Linked DNA regions of Homo sapiens. The protein of the gene in region 3 purifies or fractionates together with the protein of the main gene of each other region. This does not show direct contact. Each region holds a gene or a part of one and is shown on either strand. Other genes may lie near its edges.

Region 1 (7,250 bases), on a different chromosome or scaffold from region 3:
GGGCACATGCCAAGAGGGCATTCACAGATGGGACAATGGTATGAGCAGCCTGGCTCCTCCTGTTGGTTTGTGCATGGAAGAATAGGGGAAACACATGGAATTTGGAGCCTGCAGACCTAGATTAGAGTTTTGACTCAGCCACTTCCTAGGCATATGACTTGACCTTTTCCAGTGTGTTTTGTCATTTATAAAGTGGAGATAAACAAACAATACCTGCTTCATAAGGTGGTGAGAATTAAATGAGATTATGTGTTTGGAAGCACATTTTCCATTAAAGCTCTGTATGTGTGTGCACGTTTTGTCTGTGTCACTGCTGTTTCCTTTCTTCTTCATTGCTAAGAGCATCCCAATTTTATATGGGACATTTGATCTTAGCTAATCATTTCTATTCCATTCACCTGCTGCCATTTATTTCTTTTCTCAGCCTCCTTTGCAGCCACGAGACCCAGTTCCAGCCAAAGAGATGTGAGGGGAAGTCAGCTTGGGGCTTCTGGGAAAGAGTTTCCTCCTTGAGAAGAAAAGCCCCTTTTCCCACCATCACTGCTATTCCTTCTTGTTTGGATGCTCGTAAAATGTCCTAATACTTGGAGCTGTGGCAGCCATCTTGGGAACATAAGTTAAGAAGCATGAGGATGAAAAGCTGACTTGTTGAGAGTGGCAGAGTAGATCCTCCTTCCCAAAGAGGATCTGGGAAGAGCCTGAGAGTTTTTGACTTCGTAGAATTTCCGAACCAGCCCATAACTACCTTCCTTTAAGTTCCTAGGTTTGTGAGATGATCAAATGACTGTTGATTGAGCCACTGCTAGTTAGGTTTTCTGTTAACTTGCAAGCAGATGCATCCTGTTACCATATTTGTATGTGCTTATGTGGGGCATACAGATGAGTGTGGTTCCTTGAGGGCACTGTGGTATAACAGGAAAGAGCACTAACTTTGAGAGTCAAAAGCTGGGGATAACTGGCTCTGAAATGATAGTCTGAGCCTTGGCTTACTGATCGATAAAACTGGAAGAATGCCACTGAACCCACAGGGCTGTTGGGAGGACTAAATAAAATAATACAAATGAAAGCACATTGCAACTGAGCAAGGGTTGCATAGATGTAAGATGTTGTTAGATATCCTGCTCTTTGACCATAGTGGAGGAGGGATGAAGGCATGCAGGTAGGAATGACTTAAGTGAATTTCGATTTTGTCAACACCCCCGCCACCATACCCCTCTTTGTGATCTCCACTGAAATATGCCCAAAGGACTCAAGCTACCCCCTCAATGCCCAGTACCCTCTAGCTCTCCATTTTCCATACTTTAAGGCTATGTTTTTCCAACTTCTCCTCCTATCTCAATCCTCTCAAAAAGAAATGGACTCATCTTGTGCCCCATCCCTTCAGGCCCAGTTAATTGTCACTCACCAACCTGGTATGTGTAGGTGTGTGTCAGAGACTTCTTCTGTTACCCTTGCCAAACAACATGTGTTTTTTTGTTTGTTTGTTTTTGAGGCAGAGTCTCGCTCTGTTGCCCAGGCTGGAGTGCAGTGGCATGATCTCGGCTCACTGCAACCTCCGCCTGCCAGGTTCAAGCGATTCTCCTGCCTCAGCCTCCCAAGTAGCTGGGATTACAGATGCGCATCCCCATGCCCAGCTAATTTTTGTATTTTTTTAGTAGAGATGGGGTTTCACCATGTTGGCCAGGCCAGTCTTGAACTCCTGACCTCAAGTGATCTGCCCGCCTGGGCCTCCCAAAGTGCTGGGATTACAGACGTGAGCCACCGCACCAGCCAACATGTGTTTTTGTGGAGTCTTAAACCAATAACGTGACAATAGGAGTACACATTTCAGGCTATTGCAAGAAGTCAAGGAAAAGCACTTGGCTTCTTGGTGCCTCTTGGAGACCCAACTGGGAGAGCTGCTCAGCTCAGAACTATTCCCCTTTCTGGGAAGGACGTAATGCACAGGTATGTACCCCAATGGCCTCCTCTGTGCTCGGTAACCTTGTCGCTAACCAGGAGTGCGGTATTGACTCAGGCTGGGGCAACCAGAGTCCTGAGGTCTTTAAAATTGCAGTTGCAGAAATAGATTCATCACTCTCTAGTGAGGTCTGAGTTCTTGGTTCTGGTTATTGATGAGGTTCACCTGCAGCCCTGCCCTTCCTCTTGCAATGTGAAACCTTCCTAATAAATTCCTTTTTCTTAGTTCGGGTTGCCTCAACTCCAAATGCTGAGACAAGGACTTGGTTGCAGGTGATCTACTTGGGGCATGATCCCAGAGAATGCAAGGGAGTGGGGGAAGTGAGGGAAAAGAGAAAGCCAATAAGGGTATATTAATGAGCAAATCCCCATGGTGGGCAACTGGGGCTCAGTCCTGCTGGGGACCTCTGGGAAACTGTAGATCACACCTCAGAATATTCCGACCACAGGATGAGGAAGTGGGGACATCTATCACTCAACTTCCATTCCCATTGGTTGAGGCTTATCCCTAGGGGTGTTGTTTCCCGGCACTTATGAGTTATGTCTCCTGCTTTTGGATGATGTGCAGAGTCCCAGTGTAGAGAAAAAGAGAGAGGTGTGAAGCTGACAGTATACTGGAAGCTGCCTACAACTACAGAACTCAGGTGGACAGAAGTGATACTGAGAAAGGCATTGACTGTCTGCCACACCCCTCTTGGCTTAAACTGGTTCCCTTTGGGTTACTGTGACTTATGACCAACAGAGCCCTGGTTATGCAGCTCACTTTAGTTTTTCCCACAGAGGCAGCCACACTCATATTGGGCCAGCCCTGTGTACAAGGCATTTCTGCCAGGAGCAGTTTCCTCAACATATACACCATCAGTGGCTACTGAGGGGCCACCGGGGCAAAAGGACTGTGGCAGAAAGTGTGGTCTAACTTCAGGACAAGGGGCCAAAAATGGCTCATTGTTGGTCCATGGAGTGATGCCATCATTTGTCTGGTGAAGAGCTCTGAACACACAGAAGTAGCCAAAAACCTGGAGAAATATTAAGGTGCTCACTATATTCTCTTCTCCAGTGTATAAATAACTCACTTTTGGCACCATGTGATCTCAAAGGATGATGTCTAAACTGAATTTTAAAGATACAATTCTTTTGAACAACACCTAAACAGAAGTTAATGGTGAACCCCAATCTAAAATGAACCACAATTATCTGTTGACCTCCTAAACTCCCAGAAAGTTGGTTTTCCTTCTACAGTTCTGAAAAAAGCCCAACTACTTCCATCTGGAATGCATTCAGCTACAGGGAACAGAAGCCTGATGTCTAGGGCTCCTACAAATTGGAGCTGCTTCTTTTCCTCATGTAACAAGAAGACTGGTAAGCGATGGTTGCTGGTAATATAGTTCAGTGGCTTGACCATGCTGTCAAGAACTCAGACATGGAGCTCACTTCCACAGTGGATGGATTTTAAGTCTCTCCACTCTGTTTAATACTTCTACTGAAGTACAGCTCTGGGTAAAGGTAATTTCAGAGAGTGGAGAGGTTAAAAAAATTAAAAGTGGTGTTAAAAATAGTGAGCATGTATCTTAGGATTTGGAAGTTTTCTGTTTAAAAAATGTTTTGCCTTGTACCTGCTCCTGACCCTTGCCATATTTAAAATAGACATTTCTTCTTTGTTCTGTTGTCTCACGTACTCTAAGGTCAAAATCTTTGTCACCAGTAGAGGCAGTAGAGCAGAGTGGGCAGGGCTGTAGGCCCTGGAACCTCACCAGCCTGTCAATCTTGGACCATTTTTGACCTACAAAAAGGGCAATGTCATATAGTTCAACTTACTAGGATAATTATCATCATTTGGTGACTATTTGTTGAGTACTTATTATTAAGTAACTTTAACAGCTCCCAAGTGACCAAGCTAGGATTCAAACCCTGTTTAATGTCAGTACCCCTGCTGAGAGGCATGGTACCATGCTGACACCCCCCAATTTTTATTGAATACTCATCTTCTGGCATCCAGGTAATAAAGCTAAAGATAGACTTTCCTTACTTTTCGAACTTTGCTATACCCACTCAGAATATATGAGAAAATGCAGCCAGCATCTTCTGGAAGATTAGGAGGGCAAGTAAGATACCATAGCCACCTCCCGGCTGACATTTGAGCCTGCTTTCCGCACGGTCAAGCCTTTCGGAGGCAGCCAGCGTATGGCTTGTATCAAACTCTATATTTAGGAAGAACAACTGTGAGCTATGACAGGAATTCTCTTTAACACTTAGCCTTAACGGTTTAAGTTCCCCTCCAGCCCCGAGCCAGGAGCAGTTCTCAATACCGGGAGAGGCACAGAGCTATTTCAGCCACATGAAAAGCATCGGAATTGAGATCGCAGCTCAGAGGACACCGGGCGCCCCTTCCACCTTCCAAGGAGCTTTGTATTCTTGCATCTGGCTGCCTGGGACTTCCCTTAGGCAGTAAACAAATACATAAAGCAGGTAAGCAGAAGGACGCAGCTCCGGCGACTGGGTTTTCTAAAGGAAATTTCCTTGATACCTAACTCGAAGTGACTACTTTTAACTTTGTAGGCTTGTAACCAGTGGGTGTAGCTTCCTTGTAAATTCATTTTTCATTGGTGGTATTGCTGATTCTGTTTATAAATTGTGAGGGGTGAGGGTGCTGAAAGAATATTGAACTAGGCAAATACTGAAAGGCAGTTTTCATCGATAGTGGCAACAATAAAATGTCCACAGTCTAGAAATGATAACTGTGACCTTGAAGCTGTGCTGGCCAGGATTACAGTCGGTCAGCTGCAGATTGATTGAAGCCCTAAGCCAAGAAATCATCAGAATTTGGGCCAGAGAGAAGCTATAATGCTAGTTCCTTTATTTACCAAAATGCAAATTATTGCCAGAGTTTTTATACAGTACAAGTTTAAAATGATTTTCTCCTCTCCCTAAGCACCAGGCTTGGTCTCAATGATAACGTTCTATCAATGATAGAACCATCTTTTTAAATCTTCACTTTGGTCACAGTATTCCCATACTCAGCAGGGTAGAGGGCAGCACTCACTGTCCCTTTCTATGTGGGCACCAGGTTCTGAAGTATGAGAACGCTAAGAGTACCTCTTTCCTCTCAGCATATTTAAAGCAGAGTGAATAAGGAGTTAGTCAGTTCAGACAGCTGAACATCTTTCTACACCCTTCTCAGGAATTATTTTTAGCTGCAGGACAGAAGATAATTCCCTTTGCGATGGAGCTTTACCCACTTATTCGACCTTTAAAAAGAACAAACAAAGCTCTTATCTCTGAATAGTGATTGATTTTCCTCTGAATCCCTTCTTATTAAATGAGTGATATTACTATTGACAAATTTTTAGTAAGTCAAAGAGTTCTATTTAGAAGTCAGATATTAGGTGCTGCCCAATCAAAGACAAGCAGGGATATATCATAGGTGACTCAGCATACAGACCATTAATGGTCCCCACTGACTTACAGAACTGCCAGGAAAACTCAGCGGTGCTTAGCTGGCAAGCATTTTCATTATACTATAGGCTTTGTAAAAGTCAATATATGCCTTGTCAAACTTTCCATGTTTCAAAACTGTAGCCAGAACCAGGAGACGTAGTAATTGAGTGCTGTAAAGAGTACCTCTTTGGACGAAAAGCAGTGGCCCTGGTGGGAGTGGAGTGTGTATCTAAGGTGTAGTTTTCTTTTCTTGGTCCCGGGATGAAGCATTCAGATGAAGAAGGAAGGTGTGTTCCGCACTCTACATCCCTGATAGAGGTGACTGCAGGGGCAGGGAAACAGGGAACACTGTCTATTTTTATTCATCAGTATGCTTTGCCCTGATTTCTCTGAAAATAATGAGGACAGCAGGAACCGCTGCTGAACTGATTTACACAAATGTTATCCAGCCTGTTTGTGAGGAATGAGAGTTGGGATCTGACCAGCTTTCTATAGATCTCTCTTTCAAAGATTGACATGCATGTTAAGAGATTTGTATGCAAATCAGAATCTACCAAAAATACAGGAGACGAGGCCCATCCATTCTTGAGGCTCAGAGGTTCACACAAAAACAGCAATCCAGTAGTAAGTTAAATCAGTCCATTGAAAATATAAAATTGGTTTTTAAAAAAATACAGTATAACAATCATTCATTGACTAATTTTAAAAAACATTTCAACTTGCTATTGTCATAACATAAAGAAATTTTCTAATCCCTGTTTCAAATTGATGTACAATAATTTTTTTAACAAGTTCCCAAGTGATATTAAACTTTAGTTGTACACACACAGAGAATACCATATGCTGAGATATTTAAAGTTCTGTGAAAATTATTGCTTTGTATGACTTCTAACAGCTTTTGAAGAATAAAAACGTTAAAAATTAAGCCACGAAGCTTTTCTTTTTGGAATTAAGCTGTATGTCCTAGATCCACAAATTAAAAATCCTTCATTTCTTTATGACACTGCAGGAAAGACAGCAATCTATTTGAAACATATCACAGAGAAAAATGTATCCTTGACTGTTCCATTTGTTATTGCTTTTTAATTTTGTAACCGTATTAAAAATAATTCTACCTAGACCCTTATGCATGGAGGCTAAATCTATATGTTACAAAGACATTCAAGTGAAACTCTTTAAAAAGAGTCCTATTGTTTTCATGTATGTGGCTCCAAAAACTATATATTTGGATACCCTGAGTATAGAGGTTTTTAAAAAATATGGAATTGTTTAACTTCACATAATAGAGCCTAAGACTTTAGAGATTTCAAAAGACTTATTTTTCACAGAGTTCTTTTCAGATCTTTTATCTCTACAGGTGTTGGGGAACATACCTATATAAATTATTACTCTGAACTTAAAGCTGGAGATGAGTACAGCACTCCAAGGTCATTAGCTATGGACGATGGTAGTAAACAATGAATATTTGCATCATGCTTTACAGTTCACAAGGCCTTTTCAGGAGCATGTATGTAATATGGATTCTTACCACAACCTGTGAAGCAGGTAAAATTTAAAGAAGAGGAAATGGGCTTAGAAATATTGAGTGACATTGCCCAGGTTACACAAGATGTGTGGCAAATGCCAACACTGCTTTTTGCATTCTTTTACTCACCAGTGGACACACCACTTACACCAGTCAATAGACCTCAATCAACCTGTTGTACAGTTTGGGTTTAAAACACAGCATGTTTTGAATTCAATGAATTTTTAATTTTTCAATTGGTCCTGCTGACATTTAATAGGCCTAGCTACAAAAACAGGCCAGAGCTAGACCATTCTCTTCTCCCCTATCCCCAGTAAATTGCATCCCGCAT
Region 2 (7,164 bases), on a different chromosome or scaffold from region 3:
TGGCAAGCAATCCCACCCCTTTAATTCCTTAGTGTGTGTACCCAGCACTGACCTAGGAGCATTGGAGGGTAGGAGGGCAGCATATATGCCCCCTCTTTGTCTAGTTGGCATGGCCAGATGCCCATGAAGCTTTTTGGTTAACAATACCAGATACTAAGTCATTAAGTACTAATTGATGCGGCCCATTGGCTCTCCTTTTCCCAGGAATTCCCAGAGAAGCAGGAACTGCATAGGAATATGCTAGGACTTTTGGGGAATGTGGCAGAAGTGAAGGAGCTGAGGCCTCAACTAATGACTTCCCAGTTCATCAGCGTCTTCAGGTTGGTATTTTTAATCCTTTCCCTTTTTGCCTTAGCTGCCACAATGCTCAGAGCTCTAGCGTTTGCTCAGTTGCACAACTGCTCTTAGCCTAGGTTTGCTATAAATGTCATTTTCCCTCGATAATGTGGTTTCTTATTCATTCAATCCTTCGTAAGTGGTCCTTTTGTAATTATATCTTTTTTTTTTTTTTTGAGATGGAGTCTTGCTCTGTCACCCAGGCTGAAGTGCAGTGGCACAATCTAGGCTCACTGCAAGCTCTGCCTCCCGGGTTCACGCCATTCTCCTGCCTCAGCCTCCCGAGTAGCTGAGACTACAGGCGCCTGCCACCACGCCCAGCTAATTTTTTTGTATTTTTAGTAGAGATGGGGTTTCACCATGTTAGCCAGGATGGTCTCGATCTCCGGACCTCGTGATCCACCTGCCTTGACCTCCCAAAGTGCTGGGATTACAGGCGTGAGCCACTGCGCCCAGCCTGTAATTATATCTTAAATGACCTCAAATCCCTTTAGAAGTAGTCTGGGTATATAGACGATATGGGATAAAGAAATAAGTAGCACCTCTTGCTTCTGGTTTTAAGTTGGGGTCCTGCCGCTGGTATCTGAAGAGAAACTGGGGGAGTGGGACTCCATTTTTCTGTCTTTCTCCTGGCAGCAACCTGTTGGAGAGCAAGGCCGATGGGATCGAGGTTTCCTACAATGCCTGCGGCGTCCTCTCCCACATCATGTTTGATGGACCCGAGGCCTGGGGCGTCTGTGAGCCCCAGCGTGAGGAGGTGGAGGAACGCATGTGGGCTGCCATCCAGAGCTGGGACATAAACTCTCGGAGAAACATCAATTACAGGTGTGGGCAGGGCAGGGAGCGGGGATGCGGTGTGGAATATGGGGTAAGTGCTGGGCAGGATGCTCATACCATTAAGGTCTGCTCAGAGCTCCCACCTTCCTTCTGGTCTTCTGTAGGGTTCTGCTTTCACTCATTGATACGTAGCCGCACACAGCACAGAGCATACATAAGGGCACGATCTCATCCGTGCAGCCTGGAGCATTTGTCATACATGCCAACATCTGCATGTACCCAAAGCCTGCTCTTTGCAAACCACTAATACCTACTGATTTGTGGGGAGGGGTGGGGAGAAAATAGACACACAACAGAAAACCATACAGGTGGGCCGGGCACAGTAGCTCTTGCCCATAATCCCAGCACTTTGGGAAGCTGAGACAGGAGGATCACTTGAGCCCAAGATTTCCTTTCTTTTCTTTTTTTTTTTTTTTTGAGACAGAGTCTTGCTCTGTCGCCCAGGCTGGAGTGCAGTGGTGCAATCTCAGCTGACTGCAAGCTCTGCCTCCTGGGTTCACGCCATTTTCCTGCCTCAGCCTCAGAGTAGCTGGGATTACAGGCACCCGCCACCACGCCCGGTTAATTTTTTTGTATTTTTAGTAGAGACGAGTTTTCACCGTGTTAGCCAGGATAGTTTCGATCTCCTGACCTCGTGATCCGCCCACGTCGGCCTCCCAAAGTGCTGGGATTACAGGCATGAGCCACTGCGTCCAGCTGAGCCCAAGATTTCAAGACCAGCTTGGGCAACATAGTGAGACTTCCTCTTTACGAAAAATTTTAAAAATCAGGCCAGGTGCAGTGGTTCACGCCTGTAATCATAGCACTTTAGGAGGCTGAGGCGGGCAGATCACGAGGTCAGGAGTTCAAGACCAGCCTGCCCAACATGGTGAAACCCCGTCCCTACTAAAAATACAAAAATTAACCTGGCGTGGTGGCACATACCTGTAATCCCAGCTACTCAGGAGGCTGAGGCAGGAGAATCGCTTGAACCCAGGAGGCAGAGGTTGCAGTGAACCGAGATGGCGCCACTGCATTCCAGCCTGGGCAACAGACCAAGACTCCATCTCAAAAAAAAAAAAAAAAAAAAATGAGCTGGGTGTGATGGTGCACACCTGTAGTCCCACCTACTGGGGAGGCTGAGGCAGGAGGGTCACTTGAGCCCAGGAGGTCGAGGCTGTAGTGAGCCAACATCATGCTACTGCACTCCAGCCTAGGGGACAGAATGAGACCATTTCTTTAAAAAAAAGAAGAAGGTCAGGCGCGGTGGCTCACACCCGTAATCCCAGCACTTTGGGAGGCAGAGGCGGGCGGATCATGAGGTCAGGAAATCGAGACCATCTTGGCTAACGCAGTGAAACCCCACCTCTACTAAAAATACAAAAAATTAGCCGGGCGTGGTGGCATGCGCCTGTAGTCCCAGCTACTCGGGAGGCTGAGGCAGGAGAATGGTGTGAACCTGGGAGGCGGAGCTTGCAGTTAGCCGAGATCGCGCCACTGCACTCCAGCCTGGGCGACAGAGCGAGACTCCGTCTCAAAAATAAATAAATAAAAATAAAAATAAAAATAAATTAAAAAAACAAGAAAACAAAACAGGGCCGGGCACAGTGGCTCACACCTGTAATCCCAGCACTTTGGGAGGCAGAGGCGGGCAGATCATGAGGTCAGGAAATCGAGACCATCTTGGCTAACGCAGTGAAACCCCACCTCTACTAAAAATACAAAAAATTAGCCGGGCGTGGTGGCATGCGCCTGTAGTCCCAGCTACTCGGGAGGCTGAGGCAGGAGAATGGCGTGAACCTGGGAGGCGGAGCTTGCAGTTAGCCAAGATCGCGCCACTGCACTCCAGCCTGGGCGACAGAGCGAGACTCCGTCTCAAAAATAAATAAATAAAAATAAAAATAAAAATGAATAAAAAAAACAAGAAAACAAAACAGGGCCGGGCACAGTGGCTCACACCTGTAATCCCAGCACTTTGGGAGGCTGAGGCAGGCGGATCACCTGAGGTCAGGAGTTCGAAACCAGCCTGGCCAACACAGTGAAACCCCATCTCTGCTAAAAATACAAAAATTAGCCAGGCATGGTGGTGGGCACCTGTAATCCCAGCTACTTGGGAGGCTGAGGCAGGAGAATCACTTGAACCTGGAAGGCAGAGGTTGCAGTGAGCCAAGAACTCGCCACTGCACTCCAGCCTGGGCAACAGAGTGATACTCCATCTCAAAAAAAAAAGAAGAAGAAGAAAACAAGAATCGTTCATAATCTCACTCCCTGAAAGAGAACTCCTGTTGACATTTTGGTGTGTCTCCTTCCAGCAGTGTTTCTATGCACAGATTTCATTACTTTAAGTCAAGCTGGCATCAATTCCTACTGTTTTGTGACTGACTGGCCAATCACCAGGCATGGATCTCCCTCGTCATTTTAGGACGGAGTCACTTTCTTTGTGCCATCCTGTACAGATGGACATTTCAGTTGAAAACCCATACTGGGAGGAACAGGCTGACATTGGTAGCGTTGCCAGTGTGCCAAGTACTATAGTTCTTGGGGAGAAAGGAAGCGGAATCGCTGGCCCAGGAGTTTTGCACACACGTGTTTCAGGCTTTTGGACCATGACTCCAGGCTGGCCCACAGAAGGCCCTCGTCAGAAGAGCAGTCACAGGCCGGATGCGGTGGCTCACACCTAGAATCCCAGCCACTTTGGGAGGCCAAGGCAGGAAGATCACTTGAGCTCAGGAGTTTGAAACCAGCCTGGGCAATATAGTGAGCCCTCACCTCTACAAAAAAAAAAATTTTTTTTTTGAGACGGAGTCTCGCACTGTCACCCAGGCTGGAGTGCAATGGTGTGATCTTGGCTCACTGCAACCCCCGTCTCCCAGGTTCAAGCGATTCTCCTGTCTCAGCCTCCCGAGTAGCTGGGATTACAGGTGCACGTTACCATGCTCAACTAATTTTTTGTACTTTAGTGGAGACGGGGTTTCACTGTGTTGCCCAGGTTGGTCTCAAACTCCTGAGCTCAGGCAATCCACCCCCCTCAGCCTCCCAAAGTGCTAGGATTACAGGTGTGAGCCATTGCACCTGGCCAAAAAAAATTTTTTTTTAATTAGCCAGGCATGGTGGCTCACACCTATAGTCCCAGCTCCTCAGGAGGCTGAGGTGGGAGGAACACTTGCATGGCCTGGAAGGTCAAGGCTGCAGTGAGCTGTGATCATGCCACTGCACTCCAGCCTGGGCAGCAGAGCGAGACCCTTTCTCCAAAAAAAAAAAAAAAAAGGCCAGGCATGGTGGCTCACGCCTGTAATCCTAGCACTTTGGGAGGCCAAGGCGGGTGGTCAGGAGTTCAAGACCAGCCTGGCCAACAGCAAAATGATGCTCTAACCAAAAATTAGCTGGGCATGGTGGCATGCACCTGTAGTCCCAGCTACTCGGGAGGCTGAGGCAGGAGAATCATGTGAACCCAGGAGGCAGAGGTTGCAGTGAGCCGAGATTGCACCACTGAACTCCAGCCTGGGCGACAGAGTGAGACTCCGTCTCAAAAAAAAAAAAAACAAAGAAAAAAGGGCTGGACATGGTGGTTCACGCCTATAATCCCAGCACTTTGGGAGGCCAAGGCAGGTGGATCACTTGAGGTCAGGAGTTCGAAACCAACCTGGCCAACATAGTGAAACCCTGTCTCTACCAAAAATACAAAATTTAGGCCGGGCGCGGTGGCTCACGCCTATAATCCCAGCACTCTGGGAGGCTGAGGTGGGTGGATCACGAGGTCAGGAGATCGAGACCATCCTGGCTAACACGGTGAAACCCCGTCTCTACTAAAAAATACAAAAAAATTAGCCGGGTTTGGTGGTAGGCGCCTGTAGTCCCAGCTACTCGGGAGGCTGAGGCAGGAGAATGGCGTGAACCAGGGAGGCGGAGCTTGCAGTGAGCCGAGATCATGCCACTGCACTCCAGCCTGAGCGACAGAGCAAGACTCTGTCTCAAAAGAAAAAAAAATGCAAAAATTAGCTGGGTGTGGTGGCACACCCCTGTAGTCTCAGTTACTCAGGAGGCTGAGGCAGGAGAATCGCTTGAACCCAGGAGGCAGAGGTTGCAGTGAGTGGAGATTGCACCAGTGCACCCCAGCCTGGGCAACAGAGCGAAACTCCGTCTCACAAAAAAAAAAAAAAAAAAAAAAAAAAAAAAAACCAGGTCACACGTGCTTCTGTTCCCAGGGTGCCTCTCCCCTCTTCCCCACAGGCTGGGTCTCTGCTCCTTGCTGAGGTCTCCAGCTTTCTGCTCCTCCTAATCTGGGTCCCTTGTGCCTCCCTCATGTGCTTGTGCCTTTATCCTCTCCAAGGGAACCTTGTTGTGCAGCCTGCCAGTGGGATGCAGGGCCAGCTGTCCCTTCTCCCTGGCATCCTGCCAGCCTATCATGGTTGGTCACTAGGATTCTCCAGTGGGAGGAAACCTCAGACAAGAAAAGACACACTCCCCACCCTCAGCATCCACAGTGACCTTGATTTCTTTTCCTGCAGGTCATTTGAACCAATTCTCCGCCTCCTTCCCCAGGGAATCTCTCCTGTCAGCCAGCACTGGGCAACCTGGGCCCTGTATAACCTCGTGTCTGTCTACCGTGAGTGCCAACTTGTCCTGGGTTCAGACACTCATCCAGCTGAAAGCAGATGTGCCCTCAGGGAGTTTGTAGTCCAGGAGGGGGGCATTAATTGCTGCTGTCAGCTTTTGTGCCTCAGAGCAGAACCCTCCACTTTCCAGCGTTTGTGGGACACCCAGCTTAAGGGCTCACTCCTGCCTCATCACCAGAAGCAGGCCTGGCAGGCGAAATACCTGTGCAGAGTTCCTAGACAGCTTTCTTAATGCTTCCCGCTTCCATGTGCAGGAACAGTCCAAAATCTCCATGCCTGCTGGGCTCAGTGGTGCACACCAGCTATTCAGGAGGCCGAGACAGGAGAATTGCCTGAGGTCTGGAGTTTCCAGCTGCAATGACCTATGATCATGCCTGTGAATAGCCATTGCACTCCGGCCTGAGCAACATAGTGAGACCCCCATCTCCAGAAGTAAAATAAAAGTCTCCATGCTGTCTGCATGAAAAAAAAAAAAAACACATACCATCAGCTGGTTCCAACCTGGCAGGTCACCAGAATCACCTGGTAAAAATACAGATAAATCTTAGTCCTTGGATTTGTTGAAAAAGAATATCCAGAGACAGGGCTTAGAAATCTATATTTTTACAGAAATTCCTCAAAGGATCACCATCTTTAGGAGCCACTGGTTTCACTGGTTTGGGTGACATCTTCCATAGAATGAGCGCTGGAGGCCAGGCATAGTGGCTCACACCTGTAATCCCAGCACTTAGGGAGGCTGAGGTGGGAGGATTGTTTGAGCCCAAGAGGTTGAGACCAGCACAGGCAACACAGCGCAACCCTGTCTCTACTTAAAAAAAAAAAAATTAGTCCGGGTGCAGTGGCTCATGCCTGTAATCCTAGCACATTGGGAGGCTGAGACGGGCAGATCATTTGAGGCCAAGAGTTTGAGACCACCCTGGCCAACATAGTGAAACCCCGTCTCTACTAAAAATACAAAAATTAGCTGGGCTTGATGGCACGTGCCTGTAGTCCCAGCTACTAGGGAGGCTGAGACAAAATAATCGTTTGAACCCAGGAGGCAGAGGTTGCAGTGAGCTCAGATCGTGCCACTGCACTCCAGCCTGGGTGACAGAGTGAGACTCTGTCTCAAAAAAAAAATTATATCTATTATATATATATATATATTTTTTTTAAGATTTTATATATATATATATATATTTTTTTTTTTTTTTTTTGAGACGGAGTTTTGCTCTGTCGCCCAGGCTGGAGTGCAGTGGCGCGATCTCGACTCACTGCAAGCTCCGCCTCCCGGGTTCACGCCATTCTCCTGCCTCAGCCTCCCGTGTAGCTGGGACTACAGGCGCCCGCCACCATGCCTGGCTAATTTTTGTATTTTTAGTAGAGACGGGGTTTCACCGTGTTAGCCAGGATGGTC
Region 3 (7,624 bases):
GACTGACATCGATTGAAAGAATGCTGGAAAAATATCACAGACCATAGCTGGAATATCTTTGAGGTCGTCCATGCTCTGATGATGTCACTCTTCTTTGCCTGTCTGGAAGACATCTCCCCAAGAGCACACCACCAACATCAGGGGGGTGGAATCCAACTGGTCACTGCAAGTTTGCTGCTTACACAATGACAAGCATAGCAAGATCTGGAGAGAAACGGAATATTTTTGTGTATAATATGATGTTCTGCTTTGTGTTGTTCTGTGCTTTGAAATTTACCAAATTAAAAAAAAACTACTAAATACTGATCATCATTTACATTTCTGTTACATTAGGATTAGAGATAAGTTCTGTTTAGAAATAACTCCAAGAACAGTTTTTGTATTTTATTTTCACATTGAAAATTAGATTTACTTCAGCCTCAAAGAGCATGTTTATGTAAAAATAAATGAATGCCGGCAGCAAGCTGCACTTTTTTTTTCTAAATGGGAAAAGAGCTAATTTTATTCTGCCTTCTTCATGATGAAACCAGGACCATAGTTATTCTCTCTTACAAGGCCTCAAGATTTTCTCCTTGGAGAACTATAAGGATAAATGAAAAAACTATCCTGAAATGGACTGCTTTTATCTTCACAGGCTTTGACTCTCATTTTAAAAGCCTCCTCCATAATTTGTGCCTCAGTATCTGGCTGGAAAATTTCCTCTCTATGTAAATGGCTTCCAAAACCCAAACCAACCCCTCTCCTGATCCCTTGACCTCACCTTTCCTCATCCTTTTCAATCGAGAGACGTTTATCTCCACCCACTGGATACACCCTGAGGATCATTATCTCAGCCCCACCCCTGAGAAATAGTATCCGACAACTTGATTCCTAGCCCTGTCTCAATAAACAATTGTTCTTATTTCCTATACCTACCACATTTTGCCTAAACCTTGATCTCTAAACACTTAAATGCCTGTACCTTGTGTAGCCCATCAGAAACTTCTGGAACATTTAACTCTCTTTCAAGCTTTGCCACCTCCTAATGCAGTCTTTATGGTATCTTCAAGCCTCTGATGTATCCATTCCCTATCTATAAAATCACTGTTCCCCATTTCTCACTCTGTGTCGCACAAACTTTGGGAGAAATACGAGGAATAGTACTAATTGGGCCTTCTAAAATCTAGTTCTAACTTGTCCAGTGGCCATTAATCTTTAGATCCATTGCTGACTATCTGACATGCTGCCAAGTCTTCTATCATCTGTCTCAAGCTCCCAAACGAACCCAGTTCTCCCAGTGCAAAAAAGCAAACCAGCACTGAACAACTAGAGCCTACCTTACAGTGGGCTTCCCCCATCTCTCCTTCCTTACCCTTCAAAATATGCCTGTCTCTACATTTATCCACTCTTCTCTCTCTCATGTGTCAGAGAAAATGGTTTTTCATCTGTGCTCTTAACCTTATTTTCTATCTTTCTACATGCATCTAATTAGCCACTCTCTACCATGTATGTAAAATTTCTTCTTCTCTTTGGTTTTAAGACATGCTCAGTCTATCCTAGATCTTTCTGTAGCCTCAGCTTCTTCCATTCCTCCTTTGACTATCAAAAATTTAAAAAAAAATCTGTGATCCTATCTTTTACCACCATTTTGACCACCCTTTGACCCTATTCCCACTCCTCTTTGATAAAAGCACATTTTCAAACTGCAATAAAGATACCTCATCTTGAAACACAATGGCTTTTTCTTAGGATTCATTCTTTTCAAACATTCATGGCAAACAATGAAACCTACAATTACCTCTCCTTATTGGAACCTTCACTTTGCTTCTTTTCCTTGACTGAACTCAGCAGTTTCCTCCATTAATTGTATCATGATCCTTGGGAGATTACTTAAATCCTCTGAGTCTTAACTTACTCACTGGCAAAACTAGGGTAACAAAAACTCCTTCCTTAATGAGTTGTTATAAAGAGCACATTCCATATTATTAGCTACCATATATCAAGATCTAATTATGAGCTTGGTGCCCTAATACACAAATACATACAAACCACACAAGCATACCACACAGACACCTCACAGACATGCATCCATAAGAGATTATATGCACAGTTGACCCTTGAATAAAATTGGTCTGAACTGCACATGTTGACTTATACATAGATTTTCTTCTACCTCTGCCACTCCTGAGACAGTAAAATCAACTTTTCCTCTTTCTTCTTCTCCTTAGTCTACTCAAGATGAGGACAACAAAGATGAAAACTTTTATGATGATCCATTTCCACTTAATTAATGTAAATATATTTTATCTTCCTTACAATTTTCTTAATAACATTTTCTTTTTTCTAGCTTACTTTGTTGTAGGAATACAGTGTATAATACATGTAACATACAAAACGTGTAGATTAACTGTTTATGTTATTAATAAGGTCAACAGTAGGATATTAAGGATATTAATAGTTAAATTATTGAAAAATAAAAAAATTGTATGTTAATTTTTCAACTGTGGTGGTGTCAGCACCCCGGACGCCATGTTGTTCAAGAGTTGAATGTATAATGTGTGTGTGTGAGAGAGTGTGTGTCTGTAAAATCTAATTTAACACTCAAAACAACCTATGAGGTAAATATTATTTCTGTCATAAGGATGAAGACACTAAAGTATCAGATGTTAACCTAAATACTAAAAGACACACAGTCAACATTTTTTAGAAGAAAGATTCTAAATGGGATCTACTCAATGCCCATGCTCTTAACTACTAGATTACATTGCCTCCCAAACAGATATAGGAGTAAAATATTAGAGATTATGCAATATCATTTATTAGTCACTTAATATGTCTTGTAGATGCTAGTTTTAGAATGTACTAAAATAAACCTGCCAAGCAGTAAACTAGTGGGACAGTCTACTGCCTTCCCCCAGGTCTTCATACATATGTCCTTAAACTCAATAAGCAAACTGCAGCTATTTGGACAGTTGTGCATGGACAATACAGTTTACAATCTAATGTCAGCAACTCATAGCATTAACTCTTGGTTTGTAAATAATAATAACAATCACAATAATATTATTAAATGCACTGTGCTTTAGAGCAGACTTTTATGTATATGATTCCAATTATGTGAACTCTATTGTGGCTAACAACAGGCCCTATTGGACTGGGATGAAACTCAGTCTCTGGGATGGTCTCTGTTGTTTGCCAACTATTCTAGTTCTTCATCCAACCTTCAGGTCAGGGAACAGGTCAGGACAAGGTAAGACTGTGTATTAATCTGTTTTCAAGCTGCTGATAAAGACATACCCAAGATTGGGTAATTTATAAAGAAAAAGAAGTTTAATGGGCTCACAGTTCCACATGGCTGAAGAGGCCTCACAATCATGGCAGAAAGTGAATGGCATGTCTTACATGGCAGCAGGCAAGAGAGAATGAGAGCCAAGTGCAAGGGGAAACCCCTTATAAAACCATCAGATCTTGTGAGACTTATTCACTTCCATGAGAACAGTATGGGGGAAACTGCCTCCATGATTCAATTATCTCCCACCAGGTCCCTCCCACAACATATGGGAATTATGGGAGCTACAATTCAAGATGGGATTTGGGTGGAGACACAGCTAAACCACATCAGATTGATTGCACTCACTCCATACATAACAAAGCATGTGATGGCCACGAGACCATGAGGGGAAGTGACAGCAGTATTGCTCTGGGCTGGAAGTTTTAATTGCTAAAATGAGAACTCCTTGAGAACGAACTCAACTTCACTTCACCTTGACTACAGTGTTCCAAATAGTGATGACTCTGCCCACTTGGCATCCACAGTGAAGGCAATGTAGCATGAACAGCTGACTACCATACAAGTGTAGCTTGAGTAAGAAACAAAGTTTTGTTTTAATTCACAGAAATCTTGTGGTTACATGTTATCACGACATAACCAAGCCTTTTGGATTGATAAAGGCTCACAGCATATAACGACTTATCCAAGATTATACAGGTAGAAAATATCAGAAGTATTATGTTAGTGCTTTTCTCCATACCTCATAAATGCTAATGTCAGTGTTCCTTCCATTAGGTCCCAGTTTGCTTCATTGGTTCATTGCCTCAAAAATAAACAATATTTCCCCAGGTGCCAAGATATAAACGTAGGTGTAATCAGTCTAATCGGGGTTTAATAGATTCCAGTTTCGTAAAATAAAGGAGGTTTGAGATTTTCACTTATTTCATAACTAAGTCAAGAAGCTCATACTTAGTCTCTTCTAGTTCATGAAGTTTAGAATTCTTAACAGTCCCACCTTTGGGGAAGATAGAAAATACTTCTTACCTCAAATAATCAAATCATTGGTCAGATAAGAAGTGGCAGTTCAGTAACAAGGACTGTAACACAGCCCAGGGTGTGGCACCGTGCTTTGAGATCCTCTGGATGACCTCACAGGAAAGGCGGAGAAACCAAGCCTTGCATATATATAAACATGACCCCTTACCTGGGATATGGTCGATGCAGCTGTAGTGACAATCTCAGAGCAGCTTCTACACCACAGCCATTTCCAGCATGAAGATCACTGGGGGTCTCCTTCTGCTCTGTACAGTGGTCTATTTCTGTAGCAGCTCAGGTAAGTTAAGGTCAGACAGTGCCCTATATAGCCATTAAGATTGTTTTCATAAATAATCCCTCCTGCGATGTGAGCATCTCAGAAACATCTGGTTGTAAGAATTTAAAGTGTACTGGTTTGTAATAGGATCTTATGTTCCATCTGGAGTTTGAGAGACTTGAGTCCAATGTCTTCACTTTCAAGGATTCTTATTTGCATCCATAGAACAAAAAATGATCTAATTTCTCTGTAAGTCTTCCATTTCTATGTTCATATGGACACTGGAAGTTGTCAGTGTTATTAGATATACCATTTCTTAGTGCAAAGATACAGAAAAACTTGGATGTCTTCCCAAATCAGTTTGGGGGGATTAAAATAAAACACAAGTCTCAAAAAGCCAAGGGTCAACAATTAGACTTTTATACTGTGAAAAATTAATTAAAGTGTTTCCAACCACATAAAGACATTCAATTGCATTTCTTTATGTCAATTGGGAAGGAAAGGATATCAGAGATGATCCTTCAGGCTCTTAGGAGTGATGATTTTAATACTTCTTATTGCTACTTGACTTTGGCCATTATCAAAAACACTATGAGGTTCAGAAAACATTCCATGATCAATAAATAGAGGAAATTTTTATAATTCTCTTACCTAAACCAAGGGTTAACCTAACCCATTGGCCATTCAACTTCCTCAGCAAACAACTAGGATTTTGCATAAGGATGGAGAGTGTGCTGAATCTCATTGCTAAAGGAAATGTAGAGTAATTATATAGGATGAAACTTATATTAATTAATGAGATTTAAAGTTTGCTTTACTTTTAACATCTTCATCTGTATCTCTTTTTCAGAAGCTGCTAGTCTGTCTCCAAAAAAAGTAAGTATGTTGAATAACATTTTAATGTCAATAACTATTGACTGTCATTTAGTCAACATATATGTAGGATAAATTATGTTTAGGGGGATTCGAGAGGGAGGCAAACACACATGGAGAAATGGTACCTGTTCTCCAGAAGGCAACTAAACAAATATGACATACATATAAACAACCATATTTTAAAAATGTTTTTTAAAAATGCCAGAGTTAAAGAAGGGAGAACCGCCTTCCAGCTGAGAAGTTGGTGATGTTTTCATAAAAGGCATAACGTGTAAAAGGCAGAGCAAAAGTACCCTGATAAATTGCACAGGCTCTAGATTCAAATCCTAACTCTACTACTTACCAGCATTTATCTTCAACAAGTTATCTCTATTTCTAAGCTTTAATTTTCACATTTGTAAAGAGAGGTAATAGTAGAATTTACTCTAGTTGTTCTGAAGATTAAACAAGAAAATTCATGCAAGATTTAAGTTTAACGCCTAGCCCAGAAATGCCCAGCAATTGTTAACTGAGTGTAGCAGAAAAAAATAGAATACCAGTAGTGCTAGTATTTGTCATAGTGATAACACTAGTACTTAAAGAAGTGGCCAAGCAACATCTGAATATCTGAGCTGGGACTTCCAGCCCTTGTAGTATATCTAATAGTGGCCTAGCTTGGGGTCTGGGAGAAAAACAGGACATTTGCTTGTATATGACACAGGTGGACTGCAGCATTTACAAGAAGTATCCAGTGGTGGCCATCCCCTGCCCCATCACATACCTACCAGTTTGTGGTTCTGACTACATCACCTATGGGAATGAATGTCACTTGTGTACCGAGAGCTTGTGAGTACCTCATAAGAAGAAAATGAGATCTGGAGTCAGTGCTCTCTACTACAAACGCTTCTACTTTCCAGGATCCAGCTTAAATCTCTATAAGCTGTAATTTATAATTATTCCCACCCAGAACAGCAGGTGGGGATAGAAAACTGACTGTTGCACAATCAGACAGGGTAGAGTCACCTGCTCTGCCAGCTTGGACTAGTCCCATCCCATCACAGAACCTCCAGTTCCTGTCTGTCAATTGTGAGAATCCAGTAAGGCTGTGGATTCTCAAACTGCTGTCCCCAGAGCACAGAGGTTCTATAGAGGCAAGTCAGGAGTCACCATTAGGGTTAAAGGGACTATTTGGGGTAGTTGACAACATAAAGTTCAGCTTTGACTATTTTAAGTAGTGGAGTGCCATACAATATCATGCTTGAAGAAAGGGCCCTGAATCCCCACCCCCCATAAAATAATTGAAAACTACTACACTACCTGACTTAGATTCTAAGATAATTAACATCCTCACTGCAGCTTGATTCTTAGACAAAGTGTCCCTAGAGGTTCTTTATCTTCGAATTTCTAGAGGCTCTAAGTATCTGTAGCTTTAAGGGGGGAATAAGGCTACAAAAATGATTACTTTTCCTTTATCTAAAATAAGGGATGCAAGCTGTCAGTATTTGGACCAGAATACCACGGACATGTTTTGTTTAGGTATTTTCTTTGGCCCACAAAATGTTTTTGCAGAAATGTAGCTAGGCAGATGTCACTTCTTTGGTACAAGACATGCAAATTACACTTAACTGTCTCATAGCAAGTCTGCTGTGATCATCGTTAACTCTTTTAGGCCACTGGATTTTGGACACTTAGATCTTGCGTTTTCATCTTTGTGATTATCTTAACAAGTGAGAACAACAAGCCCTTAGCCCAAAAGGACATGTCTATGTATTTATTCCTATTTGGGAGGTTTTATTTCACAAAAGGGAAAATTCTGTAACATAGGCAGACTGGGAAACTAGCCCTTGGCCAGGAAACTAGCTGTTTTCAAGGGACACTGGAGAGAAACATGATGAAAGTCCTCCTCACTAATGCAGGATCCAGCTTCGTCAAAGGACTTGCTGACCAGGAAAAGCTGAGAGACAGGCCCTCTCAATTTTGTCAGAGTACTCTTTCTTTGTTGTGTTAAGACACTGGGTGGTCAGTGGGGCTCTGGAATCAGAGGAGGCAGCAGAGGGGTGGAATTATCACTGGACTAGGGAAATTCTGCTTCTTCCTCTGTCAGAATGTGCTTTGGCAAGGTCATTCATTTTCTGAGACTCAGTTTCCTTATCTGTAAAATGAGGTGCTGCCTCATAATCTCTATAGTTCCTTTCAGCTCTAACATT

The links.
Region 1: the proteins of SPINK7 (region 3) and SMPX purify together in Homo sapiens (affinity purification with mass spectrometry; 2 studies listed by BioGRID and IntAct, with this or other methods). This does not show direct contact.
Region 2: the proteins of SPINK7 (region 3) and ZER1 purify together in Homo sapiens (affinity purification with mass spectrometry; 2 studies listed by BioGRID and IntAct, with this or other methods). This does not show direct contact.

The regions. Positions count from the first base shown.
Region 1 is NC_000023.11:21,755,117-21,762,366, reverse strand, and holds the start of SMPX (small muscular protein), read left to right. Parts: upstream 1-4,250; 5' UTR 4,251-4,425; intron 4,426-7,250. UniProt on the Homo sapiens protein: Plays a role in the regulatory network through which muscle cells coordinate their structural and functional states during growth, adaptation, and repair.
Region 2 is NC_000009.12:128,733,928-128,741,091, reverse strand, and holds part of ZER1 (protein zer-1 homolog), read left to right. Parts: intron 1-204; coding exon 205-320; intron 321-972; coding exon 973-1,161; intron 1,162-5,660; coding exon 5,661-5,758; intron 5,759-7,164. UniProt on the Homo sapiens protein: Serves as substrate adapter subunit in the E3 ubiquitin ligase complex ZYG11B-CUL2-Elongin BC. Acts to target substrates bearing N-terminal degrons for proteasomal degradation with the first four residues of substrates being the key recognition elements.
Region 3 is NC_000005.10:148,307,962-148,315,585, forward strand, and holds the start of SPINK7 (serine protease inhibitor Kazal-type 7 precursor), read left to right. Parts: upstream 1-4,461; 5' UTR 4,462-4,522; coding exon 4,523-4,583; intron 4,584-5,412; coding exon 5,413-5,438; intron 5,439-6,138; coding exon 6,139-6,263; intron 6,264-7,624. UniProt on the Homo sapiens protein: Probable serine protease inhibitor.